Linked DNA regions of Homo sapiens. The protein of the gene in region 2 interacts with the protein of the main gene of each other region in a pairwise test. Each region holds a gene or a part of one and is shown on either strand. Other genes may lie near its edges.

What was found. Proteins that work in one complex are often made in the same cells at the same time.
Region 1: the proteins of CDC42EP3 (region 2) and COPE interact in binary tests that used the Homo sapiens proteins (3 or more experiments, as listed by UniProt).

What each region holds. Positions count from the first base shown.
Region 1 is NC_000019.10:18,909,388-18,916,412, forward strand, and holds part of COPE (coatomer subunit epsilon), read right to left. Parts: intron 3,660-7,025; coding exon 3,597-3,659; intron 1,685-3,596; coding exon 1,584-1,684; intron 1-1,583. UniProt on the Homo sapiens protein: The coatomer is a cytosolic protein complex that binds to dilysine motifs and reversibly associates with Golgi non-clathrin-coated vesicles, which further mediate biosynthetic protein transport from the ER, via the Golgi up to the trans Golgi network.
Region 2 is NC_000002.12:37,661,641-37,668,665, forward strand, and holds part of CDC42EP3 (cdc42 effector protein 3), read right to left. Parts: intron 1-7,025.

The DNA.
Region 1 (7,025 bases), on a different chromosome or scaffold from region 2:
GCTGGAGGGCAAGGCCGTCCCAGGCCTCTCTCCCAGCTCTGGTGGCTGCTGGCCACTCGTGGTGCTCCTTGGCTAGCAGACATGTCACTCCAGTCTGTTGTCACATGGGCTTAACTCTGTGGGCCTCTTTCCTTTTTTTTTTTTTTTTTTTAAGACAGTCTCCCGCTGTCACCCAGGCTGGAGTGCACTAGTGCGATCTTGGCTCACTGCAACCTCTGCCTGCCAGGTTCAAGCGATTCTCCTGCCTCAGCCTCCCAAGTAGCTGGAATCACAGACATCACATCCTGTTAATTCTGTATTTTTAATAGAAATGGGGTTTCACCACGTTGGCCAGGCTGGTCTTGAAAACTCCTGACCTCAGGTGATCTGCCCACCTCGTCCTCCCAAAGTGCTGGGATTACAAGTATGAGCCACTGCACCCAGCCCTCCTTTTATCTCTTAAAAGGACACAAGTCCTTGGCTTTGGGGCCCACCCTAAATCCAGCATGTCTTCATCTCCTTATCTCTTAATCTGATCGGCAAAGACCCTTTTTCCAAATGATATCATATTCACAAGCATGTGGGATAGGATATGGACGTACCTTTTGGGGGACACCATTCACCCCACCATGCTGCCTCTGCACAGGAGTCAGCTCCCAGGAACCCCAGGTTTCTTTGAGTGAAGGGAGGCGGTAGTTGGGACACTGCCTCCGTGGGCCAAGGAAGAGCAGGATCACAGCAGTCTCCCCATGCCAGACCCTCACTCCGACCCCACAGCAGGAGGGGGCAAGGTTCCTGGGTCCCCACAGCCCAGCCCCCTCTCCCCTTGGCTGCCGCCCATGGGCGTTTGACCAACGCTGGCCTGTGGCTCAGGGGCAGGACAGGCGTGGCCTCACCCACCCTCCCACTGGGCTCCAGGGGAGATACTGGCAGGTTGCAGTCCCCAACTAGCTGGGACTAGAAAACTGATAGGATTTGGGAGGCTGAGGTGGGCAGACCGCCTGAGCTCAGGAGTTCGAGACCACCCTGGGCAACACGGTGAAACCCAGTCTCTGCTAAAATACAAAAATTAGCTGGACGTGGTGGCACGCAGCTATAGTCGTAGCTACTCAGGAGGCTGAGGCACAAGAATCACTTGAACCCAGGAGGCAGAGGTTGCAGTGAGCCGAGATCTCACCACTGCAACTCCAGCCTGGTGACAGAGTGAGACTCCATCTCTAAATAAATAAATAAGAAAACTGATGGGAGGGCCCTGCCCCCGCTGCGCCCTGGGCTGTCTTGGGGCTCTGGGTGTTGCAGAGGGCTGCTCGGTAATTGATATTTTCAGTTCTAGGTTCAGAGAGTGCCTTGTGGTCCATGAGGGCGTGTGCACACACAGCACTGTCTCTGACCCTCCCCTTTGAAGCAGGATCCATCACCAGCCCCCCACTGCTGTGCAGGTGAGGGAAACTGAGGCACAAAGCAGCAGGGGAGCAGAGGGGAGAGGCGCCTAATCTGAGGGATGCTGTGCGCTGCACGCCATGCCCCCACCCACCCAGGTTCATAACCAACAGGCCTTGAAGATGGCCCCGCGCCTCAGGCCAACCCATTCTCTGGGGCCTCACCTCCGACTCTCGTGGGCGAGGTAGTCAGCAAACATGCGCACGGCCTGGAGCTCAGGGGCCGAGGAGGGCTTGATCTCATCCAGGACCACACCGAACTTCCTCTGCAGTAGGGACGAGGCGTCAGCTGCACCCGTCCACCCCAGAGGATTTCCATGTCTTCAGCTTGGCAGGGAGAGCCCCAGACAGGAAGTCCCTGCCCCACCAGGGACCCCTCAGCCCAGCATGGGCCACCTCCACTGCAGTACACTGTGGAGGGTGGCATGGCGTCACCTGTCGTGAGCAGCCAGGTGTGCCCTCATCTGCAGGGCCACACTGCCCATGCCTTGAGCTAGGGACCCTGGTAGGTTACTGTCTATCCCCTGGCAGCTGTCCACCTCTGGTGGTGAGGTGAAGGGCGTGTCACCTGGGGGCAGGGCAGCAGCAGTTATGGGGGTTGTGACATGCGCTTCTATAAAGCAGGACATGCCCCCAGCCAGCCCTGCCCACCTACTGGCCCTCTGAGGATGCCCAGACTGATACCACTGTCACATCTGCAGCTGGGGGCCCGTCCCTCATTGTGTTCCCTCCTAGATGGTTCCTTCCCCATTTTTTTTTTTTTCGAGACGGAGTCTCGCTCTGTCGCCCAGGCTGGAGTGCAGTGGCGTGATCTCGGCTCACTGCAAGCTCCACCTCCCAGGTTCACACCATTCTCCTGCCTCAGCCTCCCGAGTAGCTGAGACTACAGGCGCCCGCCACCACGCCCGGCTAATTTTTTTGTATTTTTAGTAGAGACGGGGTTTCACTGTGTTAGCCAGGATGGTCTCAATCTCCTGACCTTGTGATCCACCCACCTTGGCCTCCCAAAATGCTGGGATTACAGGTGTGAGCCACCACGCCCGGCCTTTTTTTTTTTTTTTTGAGATGGAGTTTCGCTCTTGGTGCCCAGGCTGGAGTGTAATGCTGTGACCTCAGCTCACCGAAACCTCTGCCTCCCAGGTTCAAGTAATTCTCCTGCCTCAGCCTCCCAAGTAGCTGGGATTACAGGCATGCACCACCACACCTGGCTAATTCTGTATTTTTAGTAGAGACAGGGTTTCTCCATGTTGAGGCTGGTCTCGAACTCCTGACCTCAGGTGATCTGCCCGCCTTGGCCTCCCAAAGTGCTGGGATTACAGGCGTGAACCACCGGGCCCAGCCCCCATTCTTATTTTTTTAGAGACAAGGTCTTGCTATGTTGTCCAGGCTGGAGTGCAATGGCGTGATCACGGCTCACTGTAATCTTGACCTCCTGGGCTCAACTGATCCTCCTGCCACAGCCTCCCAATTAGCTGGGACTCCAGGCACATGCCACCATGACTGTCTTATTTTTTAATTTTTTTTTGTAGAGACGGGGGTCTCACTATGTTGCCCAGGCTGGTCTTGAACTCCTGGCTTCAAGTGATCCTCCCACCTCAGCCTCCCAAAGATTACAGGTGTGAGCCACTGTGCCTGGCTCCTACCAATTATTTTAGGAAAAAAAAAAAAATCGGCTGGGCGCGTTGGCTCACGCCTGTAATCTCAGCACTTTGGGAGGCTGAGGCAGGTGGATCATGAAGTCAGGAGTTCAAGACCACCCTGGCTAATGTGGTGAAACCACGTGTTTATTAAAAATATAAAAATTAGCCAGGCGTGGTGGCGCACGCCTGTAGTCCCAGCTACTTGGGAGGCTGAGACAGGAGAATCACTTGAACCCAGGAGACGGAGGTTGCAGTGAGCTGAGATCGAGTACGACAGAGTGAGACTCCGTCTCAAAAAAAAAAAAAAAAAAATCAAGAAGCTGTGACCCAGGCCCCCTGGCCTGGCAGTCTCAGGCCTCCGTGACACAGCCACCTTCACATGCTGGCTGCGCTGGCTGTTCACAGTCACTGAACACTGCAGGCCTGGGTCCCTGCTTTGTTTACTGTCCCCGCCACCCACTCTGTGGTGCCTTCCTGTCCCCAGCCCCACCCTCTACTCTGTTCATCACTCTTGCCCCCGGCCAAGGCCCGCACTCACCTGCGCCAGGTACGCTCTATACAGGAAGACGTCCCTCTCCACGTCTCTCTCTGGGCTTGATAGCTGTGGGAACCAATGTGAGTCAGGACGCACAGTGGGAGGCCCAGCGCAGCCCACACAGGGTGAGCATGACAGACAGGCCCCTGTACACTGGGGACAGGTGGCTTCTCCGGCAGGGTTGGAGGTCTGAGTCCCAGCCCTGATCCTCCGTAGCCCGAGTGGCCTCTGCTGGGGGTACCCTACACGGGGGGTGCCTGATCTCATCCCGCGCTGACACCACCCCAGGAAGGAGGCTTGCTCCCAAGTTCAGTGTCTGCCCCAGTCACACTTAAGAAGCCAGGGTGGCACCCGCACCTCTAACCTCTGGACATGGGGCCACTGTGGCTTGATTCTGTTCTGCTTTTGTCTCAAGACATTTTGAGCTCAGTTTGGCTGCCCCAGTGTGGTGACATCTGTGCCCAGCCCTGGCCAGGGGAGACCCTGGGAATGGCTCTGTACTTGGGCCACACCCCCACAGCCCAGCCATTGCACAGAACTGAGGAGCAAGAGGGAGGTAACCTGTGGCAACATCCATTTTGGGATGATAATGAAGCTGCCCCTGAGCCCAGGCCAGGGAGGGAGGCTGGGACCGCTCTCCAGAACACAGCTTTGCATGCTGCCCCCGGAGGCTGGCTGACTTCCCAGGGTGCCCATGGCAGGTGGGCACAGTGCAGCTCAGCCCATGGCCTGAGGGTGCTCGCCCAGGCCCCTGGGGGCTTCGAGAGGAAAGTACAGTTGGGAAGGGGCCCAGCCACCTTGGCATCGCCACTCCAACAACCTCTAAACAGAGGGGACTGAGAAGGCTGTCAGCAAGAGGGCCTGCCAGCTGTCAAGGCACAGGGTCAAAGGACCCAGTGCCCAAACCAGGGGGAGTCACTCTGCCCTGTCCTCTGAAGCCGAGAACCACAGATTCCAAGCCACATCTCTTCCTTCTCCCCAGCCTGAGGGAGGAGCGTGGATGTCAAACGTGTCCTCATCCCAGGCCGCCGCAGACCTGGCCCCAGCCTGACTCAGGCTGCCATTGCCAAGAGGACCCAGCAGCTTCTGCTCAGGCCCTGGTAGCCAGAGTGGGTATCTGGCTATGATTTGGAACAAGATGCCATCTAAATAAATAACTCCTAGAAGAATGTCAAAGGCATGCGGAGGGTGGTGGCTGCAGAAATCGAGCCCCACCTGCAAATGGGATGGACAGGTGAAATATGTACCTTTTCAAGTATGCAAAGAAACATATTATAGGCCGGGCATGGTAGCTCATGCCTGTAATCCCAGCACTTTGGGAGGCCGAAGTGGGTGGATCATTAGAGGTCAGGAGTTCCAGACCAGCCTGGCCAACATGGTGAAACCCCGCCTCTACTTAAAAATACAAAAATTAGCCAGGTGTGGTGGCGGGCGCCTATAATCCCAGCTACTCAGGAGGCTGAGGCAAGAGAATCACTTGAACCCGGGAGATAGAGGCTGTAGTAAGCCGAGATCACGCCATTGCACTCCAGCCTAGGTGACAGAGCAAGACTCCATCTCAATAAAAAATAAATAAGTAACTCTCAATCAACCTTCTGAGGTGGACTTCAGTTAGGTGACTAGCCCAGGGCCACATGCCACCCTCAGTTAAAAAAGACAGGCCAGGTGTGGTGGCTCACACCTGTAAACCCAGTGCTTTGGGAGGCCAAAGCAGGAGCACTGCTTGAGCCCAGGAGTTTGAGACCAGCATAGGCAACATAGCAAAAAGCATAGTCTTTTTTTTTTTTTTTTTTTTGATGGAGTCTTGCTCTGTCACCCAGGTTGGAGTGCAGTGGCGTGTATCTCGGCTCACTACAACCTCTGCCGCCTGGGTTCAAGAGATTTTTCTGCCTCAGTCTCCCGAGTAGCCGCGACTATATGTATTTTTAGTAGAGATGGGGTTTCACCATATTGGCCAGGCTGGTCTTGAACTCCTGACCTTGTGAACCAGCCGCCTCGGCCTCCCAAAGTGCTGGGATTACAGGCATGAGCCACCGTGCCCGGTCTGAGACCCTGTGTCCATAAAAAAATTATAAATATTAGCCAGGTGTGGTAGCATGCACCTGTAGTCCCAGCGACTCAGGAGGTTCATGAAGGAGGATCGCTTGAGCCTGGGAGGTCGAGGCTACAGTGGACTATGATCATGCCACTGCACTGCACTCTGGCCTGGGTGACAGAGTGAGACCCTGTCTATCTTTAGGGAAAAAAAAGAGACAAAAGCTGGCTGTTGGGCTTTCAAAGTGAGGACACAGTGGGGCGCCATCGGGGGCACCAGGGTGGCCTCAGCCGCCCCTGTGTGAAATGCAGGTGCCCAGGAGACTGTGCGTGCGGAAGTGCTCAGAGGCTGCAGAGTGCACTGGAGAGACAAGAGTGCCGGGAAGCATAACAACAACAAATGTGCAGACCGTGACCCTGACGTGAGGCTCTGGAACCGTTGTGGTTTTCCTCGACTTCCAGGGACGATCCTACCATCAGGACGCATGTGTGTCCCCGGGGTGGGAGAGCATTGCTCTTCAACCCCAAGGGCTCACTACGATCACCTGGGAGCCCAGGAACCACCAAAGCCAGGAGGCCACATCCACCAAGGTCACCTGGCCCTAGGATGGCCCCAGCACTGGCCCCAGGTGGCTTAAGATGTGGCCATGGTTGAGGAATCAGGGTACTGTTTGGGAAGGCGGGTGACAGGATGGGGGCCCTGTAGCCAGAAACCTTGGGGGTAGTAACTCCTCCCTTCTGTCCCTGTAGCCAGTGATCTGACCGCACTGGGCCGTCAGCAACTCAAGGCCTATGAGCTGCTTCAACCCCAACAGCTGGGCGGTGCCTGCCATCTTGTGGGCAAACTGGCAAATGTCAGAAACCCAGAAACGTCATGATGGTAGCCTAGTGCTGGGGGCAGCAAAGGGCAAAGACTGCCAGGTGCTCTCCCTGGGGCCACCTCAGGTGGGGCTGAGGTTGCTCAGGCCACTGTCATGAACTACCACAGACCAGATGGCTTAAAAAATGTATTCCTCAAAAATTAGCCAGGTGTGGTGGCGCACGCCTGTAATCCCACCTACTCGGGAGGCTGAGGCAGGAGAATCGCTTGAACCCAGGAGGCAGAGGTTGTGGTGAGCTGAGATCATGCCACTACACTCCAGCCTGGGCAACAGAGCAAGACTCCATCTCAAAAACAAAAAAACAAAAATTAGCTGGGCGTGGTGGCAGGCACCTGTAATCCCAGCTACTCTGAAGGCTGAGGCAGGAGAATGGTGTGAACCCAGGAGGCGGAGGATGCAGTGAGCTGAGATTGTGCCACTGCACTCCAGCCTGGGTGACAGAGTTAGACTCTGTCTCAAAAAAAAAAAGTATTCCTGGCCAGGCGTGGTGGCTCACACCTGTAATCCCAGCACTGTG
Region 2 (7,025 bases):
TTATAAACTGGACGGCAAGGCTACCGGGAGCTGACAGCACGAGGAGGTGGCTGAAAAAGTCATAGCCATCTGACGGACTCTGGACAGACCCCACCAGAATTAGTGATGTATGAGAGAAGAGAAAAAACAAAAGGGCATGTTGTTATTTTCTTAAATACGTGATAAGTAGGGCCAATCTCTCTCCTTTTTAACCAAAGAAATTATGTTATTATCTGTTTATATATCAGGCTTAAGATTTTCTTTTCCTTGGCTTAAAAAAAAGTTCGACAGAGCTGGGCCTAGGAGGAAGATTCATGCTCTGTGTCACTTAAACACTTAAGGCCTTGGTTTTATCATGTCAGAATGAGACTGGGGCTGAGATAAGGTCCCTTCCATCTGTCAAATGGTAGGGCTCTGTGATTCTATTTGCAGAAACATCTAGCGTCTAGGAAGTTTCCAAAAAAGAAAAAAAAAAAGTAATGTTTTTAAGGAAAGTAAGACTAGCCTTAGAATCAAAATACTTTTTACCAGCGAATACAATTTTCATCACCCTTTCCCATCCTTCCTGGTATTAAATTAAGGGTCCTGAGCCATGTAGTGACTCCCTTTGGGAGCTTCAGTGTCCCCATCTGTGAAGTGCAAATGGCAAAGGTGGGAGTCTTCCTGGGTAACAACGAGCATAAAGTGCTTGGCAAAGCACCTGGCAGGCAATGAGCCCATATCAATGGAAGGGGTAATGTTCATTATAAATTACCCCAAAAAGCTGGAGCTGCATAAGGAAGAAGATGAGCTGGAAGCTCATGGTGGGGATTCCTTTTAACCTTACTCCTTTTAGACCTTGGGATCTGGCCACCTAAACTGATTGTTTTAAATACAGTGTGAAAAACTCCCAAATGTTCTGGGTTCAATAGTCTAATTCCCCATTCTGAAAAAAGAACGGAATTTGAAAGAAGTCCCTGCTTTACTCCCTGCACCACCCTGAGAGACCTCTCTCTGAACCTCACTCCCCCAGGCTGGCAAGTAAAGCACCACCATCCCAGGGTGAGCCCACAAGGAATATAAAACAAATCCCCATCACCAGCATAAACTTACACTAAACTTAATAGAAGGCCAAAAATCAACACTCTTTAGGAAGACATTTCATTCTGAAGCCGTCTGAGAGCAAGAAAACAGGCTCTAGTTGGTGCTGCGACATGCACAGAGTGAGCCATGTGCCTCTCGCCAGTTCAACCCATGGGAAGCCAGCTTTAGAAAGCCTTTCACAGTCAGGTGCGGTGGCTCACACCTGTGATCCCAGCACTTTGGGAGGCCGAGGCGGGCGGATCGCCTGAGGTTAGGAGTTCGTGACCAGTCTGGCCAACACGGTGAAAGCCAGTCTCTACTAAAGATACAAAAATTAGCTGGGTGTGGTGGCGGGTGCCTGTAATCCCAGCTACTCATGAGGCTGAGGCAGGAGAATCTCTTGAACCCGGGAGGCAGAGGTTGTAGTAAGCCAAGACTGTGCCACTGCACTCTGGCCTGGGCAACTGAGTGAGTGAAACTCGGTCTCAAAAACAAAACAAAACAAAACAAAACAAAAAAAACAAACCAACCTTCCATGTGCCTCCCCAGCCCCTGGCTGGTCCCTCATGTGTTCAACAACAAACATCCATGGAGGGCCTACTAAGTGCCAGGCACTATTCTAGAAGTTGAGGCCGCAGCAATGATGCACTCCACTGTGGAGAGACTGACGCTAATATAACAAATAAATAAATGGCTCATGTTTATTTATTCGTTAATGGCTGGCGAGAGGTCTAGGCAGCAATAGGAAATACAAGGACCCTTACTCTGTGCTCTAAGTGGACACATGGGTGCCAAGTTGCCTCAGTCACTCCCAGGGCACGAGAAAGCATTGGTGGGGGTTGCCAATCTCTCCGCGGAGATCTTGAGAAGGTTCCAGCAGGGGCTTGACCTATTTCCACAGGGCCCGCAGATGATCTCTATCACCACAACCAAATGACTGGGGTGACTCCCCTTGCATTTGAATGTTCTGTAGCCTGGGAAGGAGTAACTTTACTACAGCAGGACTTAAAAATAAGCTAGTGTGGTGGTTAATACTGAGTGTCGACTTGATGGAAGGATGCAAAGTATTGTTCCTGGGTGTGTCTGTGAGGGTGTTGCCAAAGGAGATTAACATTTGAGTCGGTGAATTGGGAGACACAGACCCATCCTCAATCTGGGTGGGCACCATCTAATCAGCTGCCAGCGTGGCTAGGATAAAAGCAGGCAGAGGAGGCCGGGCGCGGTGGCTCATGCCTGTAATCCCAGCACTTTGGGAGGCTGAGGCGGGCAGATCATGAGATCAGGAGATGGAAACCATCCTGGCTAAGGCGGTGAAGCCCCGTCTCTATTAAACATACAAAAAATTAGCCGGTCGTTGTGGAGGGTGCCTGTAGTCCCAGCTACTTGGGAGGCTGAGGCAGGAGAATGGCGTGAACCTGGGAGGCGGAGCTTGCAGTGAGCCGAGACTGCGCCACTGCACTCCAGCCTGGGCGACAGAGTGAGACTCCATCTCAAAACAAAACAAAACAAAACAAGCAGGCAGAGGAACGTGGAAGGACTAGACTTTCTGAGTCTTCTGGCCTTCATTTTTCTCCCGTGCTGGATGCTTCCTGCCCTCACACATCAGACTCCAAGTTCTTCAGTTTTTGGACCTGGACTTACACCAGTGGTTTGCCAGAAGGCTCTCAGGCCTTTGGTCACAGACTGAAGGCTGCACTGTTGGCTTCCCTATTTTTGAGGTTTTGGGACTTGGACTAACTTCCTTGTTCCTCAGCTTGCAGACAGCCTATTATGGGATTTCACCTTATGATCATGTGAGTCAACACTCCTTAATAAACTCCCCTTTATATATACATCTATCCTGTTAGTCTTGTCCCTCTAGAGAACCCTGACTAATACAGCAAGTAAGCGACAAAGATTTCTGACCTGACAACAACTGAGGAGATATGCTACAGAAAGAATCAGATAGTATAGCAAGGGCTATACTGCCCACTTTGTCATTAAGTCCTACTGCAGCAAAGATGAATGACAAGATAAATGAGATTCAGTCCCTATCCTTGAGGAGCCGGTAGTCTAATTAGGCAGGCACTTGCGTCAATCAGGAACATGGATGGAGTTGGAGGCCATTAGTCTTAGCAAACTGACGCAGGAGCAGAAAACCAAATACCGCATGTGCTCACTTGTAAGTGGGAGCTAAATGAGAACAAATGGACACAAAGAGGGAAACAACAGACACTGGGGCCTAATTGAGGGGGAAGGGCGGGAGGAGGGAGAGGATCAGAAAGACTAATGATCAGGTACTATGCTTAGTACCTAGGTGATGAAATGATCTGTACATCAAAACCCCGTGACATGAGTTTACCTCCGTAACAAACCTGCACATGTAGCCCCGGACCTAAAAGTTAGGCCTATTACTGGATTTCACCTTATGATCATGTGAGTCAACATTCCTTAATAAACTCCCCTTTATATATATATAAAGATAACTTAAATGTAGTAAGTGTTACAATAGGAGAAGATACAAGACACTATGGAAATGCCTCTGATACAAGAAAAAAGAGGAACAGAATCACAGTTTAGGGCCAGGAGAGGGCCTGGGGAACATCCACACACTTCTCTGGCCTCCCTTCCCATCCCCACCCTCCCACTCTGCCATTTTTTTTCACAGGTGATGGGATGGAGCCTGCCCAGAGAAGGGGAAGGATTTGTTTTCTGACTAGCTGGTCAGCCAAAGGCTTAGAGCCTCATCTCCCGCTGTGTTAAAATCAATGTTTTAAGTCTGAACTGACCCTTGGCAAAACAAAAGTTTAAAAAATAAATAAAAAGGTTGAGAAATCAAACACATTCTGAATGGCAAAGCCACATTTCACCAAAAATGCCTCTGCTTGTTTTAAAAAATGTATGTAGCCTAAATGATTATGATGTATTTGGACAGAAAAGCTCTTTTTCAACTAAACTCATGACAACGATCTATCATTGGCATGATGTGTCTACAAATAGGACCTTCAGGTTGTCACCAGAACATGACGGATTCCCAAATGTGGAAGCTGTCTAAATAGAGGCCTGACTTGGAAGTTCCCTGCCTTCCACGCTTGCTCAGGCTGCTCTGCCAGAGATCTGCACGGGTCTGTTTTTCAACCCAGAGTCTTACATTATTAGTAGTAAGATAGCTATGCTAATAGGTGCCACTGATCCTGGCTCACTGTTCTGGAGCCAGAGATTATCTGAGATCATCTCTCACCAAATGCTACGTTTTAGGGATGAGAACAAGAAAACCCCAAGAGGTCAAGGTTATACAATTTGGGTCAGAGCTAAGACCAGAATTGGTATTTTTTTAATCTCTATTTCTACACACAGACACCCCTTTTGATTGCCCTCACTTAATTCTCCATTAGTTTTATCAGCGTTTGCCAGGATCTCCTGGTACATCCTCATCGCTCTCTTCCTGTAACGCCTGTGGTTCTCTAACTAAAATGTCCCTGGGTTGCTTCGGCTCTGTAGGACATACTGCGGTTATGTAGCTTCTGTTCTGTGTTTCCCAGAGTGTGTTTCCTGCCAGGCTGGTCCTGCAGCTGCTCAGTGGGCAAAACCATTTGAGAAACTCTGGACACGACCTCCCTGTGGAGATTCACTATATACACTGGCTTTTTAAATGTTCTGAGAAGTCCTGCAGAAAGGGACCTTCATCAAACTGGGGTCCCACAGAATACTTTTATGACATTCATGGCTCGAGGTACACTTTAGGCGGTACCCTGTTACCTAATTGCAGGTGTGTGATCTCTGCAACATGGTTTAACAAAGGGCCAAAGGCTAGAAGGCTAATAATAACTTTATCCAATATGGAAATAAAACCCAATCCACTGAAAATCCTTTTTAAAAAGTTTTAAATTTGGGATTCTAGAATTCTATTAATTCATGACTTAGGCAAGCAGTAAGGACTAAGCAAACACTAGTTTGGAACTCATCAGCTTTCACACAGTTTACTTGGCTATTTAGAAATAGTAATCTTTTAAATCTCAGCATCATGCTTTGTATTATAAAACTGTATGGTTAAAATTTGAAAACTGCTTTTCTACCAGAGGTACTGTCAAATTCAGTCCATCATCATGTGATTCTGATGAAACTTGGCACTGAAGTATATCAAGGAGAAAGCTTTTTTTTTTTTTTAAGGAAAGAAACACACCTGACTATTGCTTTAGAACTACATGGCTACTTATTCTGGTTTGTGGGGTATTGTTTTGTTTTGTAGCCTTTAAGAGGTGGGGACAGGAGAAGATTTCAAATGGAATTGGACAGCTCCAAGACTGTAACCATTGGCTTTGAGGCTACCTGAGTTACTTCGGACTGTCCTTTCCAGAACCCTGTTTCCATCTGAGAAGTCTCTGGAGCTGATCCCCACAGCTAATCACAAACCCAGAGCATCAAAGCAGTGGAGGCCAAGGCAGGCCCTGTGGGTTTTCCGGGGCAAGCAGTAAGGACAAGGTTTCAAAGGTTTCCTTGTTGTGTGTTTCTTATCTAGCAGGGCCCAGGGGATATGCTGAACTGTAACAGGGCTTGACTTCTGCCATGGACACAGCCCAGTGCCTTTCTGTTCACTTTACCTGTAGCTCCTCTTCTGCTGAGTTCTTGCAGCAACATCATCAACAAACATGGACTAAAACGTCCACTGAGTGCCGGGACTGAAGGCCCAGGTAGTGTGGTTCCTGCCTTCAAGGAGGGGATTGTCCACAGGTGGTTACTGGACTCTGCAACCCCGGGCTCCCCAGAATTTTGAAGCGAGCACACAGTCTATGCTAGAGCTTCACTTCATCCCCAGCCACCAGAAGTCCTTGTCCCTGGCTGTGGCTTGGCTTGCTTTCTCACCATATAGTCCCACATTTTCACCTAGTAAATCTCTTCGTTTATGGCATAAATTAAACTGCTTATGTTAACCCTAGCAGTGTTCATGCTAGATCCACTTTCATGCCACATATGTGGGATTGAATCATCTTTAATAATAAAATAATTTACATAGTGTTCCTCAAGGCTGGCAATTACTGTCATCTTCAACTGTGAGATACAGGGTGATATGAAATTATTTCCTTGCCAGAGGCCAAAAGTCATAACAAAAATCAGATTTAACAACTTCTCTGCCCCTCCTCCCCATTGGTGGGGGTGTGGTATTTAGTATAAGGTCAAAAAGACCTGAGTTCAAACCCTGCTTCTGCTATTTAGCTGTGTGACCTTGGCCACGTTACTAAACCTTTCTGAGCCTGTGTTCTCATCTGGAAAAGAAGAGCAATATAATAGTCTGCCTTATCCTCCACGGATATGTTCCAAGACCCCCAGTGGGTGCCTGAACCTTGGACAGTACTGAACCCCATATATACTATGTTGTTTTTTATACATACATACCTGTTATAAAGTTTAATTTGTAAAGTAGGCACAGTAAGAGATTAACAATAGAATAATTATAACAATGTAATAAAAATTACATGAATATGGTCTCTTTCTTTCTTAAAATGCCCCATATTCACCTATTTTCAGACCATGGTTGACTATGGGTAACTGAAACCCTGGAAAAGAAAACCACGGGTAATTGGGGACCACTGTACTATCTCTCTCAAAGAATAGTTATGAATATTACATGACAGAACCAGTATTAAGTACCTAGGAAAAAAACAAAAGCAACATTGAAAACCTCAACCTTTTATTGTGGCTACTCTGGGCCAGGCACTGTTCTGAGTACATAATCTTTTTTAACTCCTTTAATCCTCAGGGAAATAATATTATCTCCATTTTACAAAGGATAAACTGAGGTAAAGGTGAGGTAACTTGCCCAAAGTCACACAGGTGTTAAGTGCCAGAACTAGGACATGTGCCCAGGCAGCCTGACTCGGAGGCTTCAGAAGTTCAGTTTTTTTTCCCATCCCCTTAACCCAAAGAGCTGCTGACTTTCACATAGGATTAGCCACTCATGCCTGCACATATTGTGTTGTTAAACTGCACACGCATGTTTAGGTTTT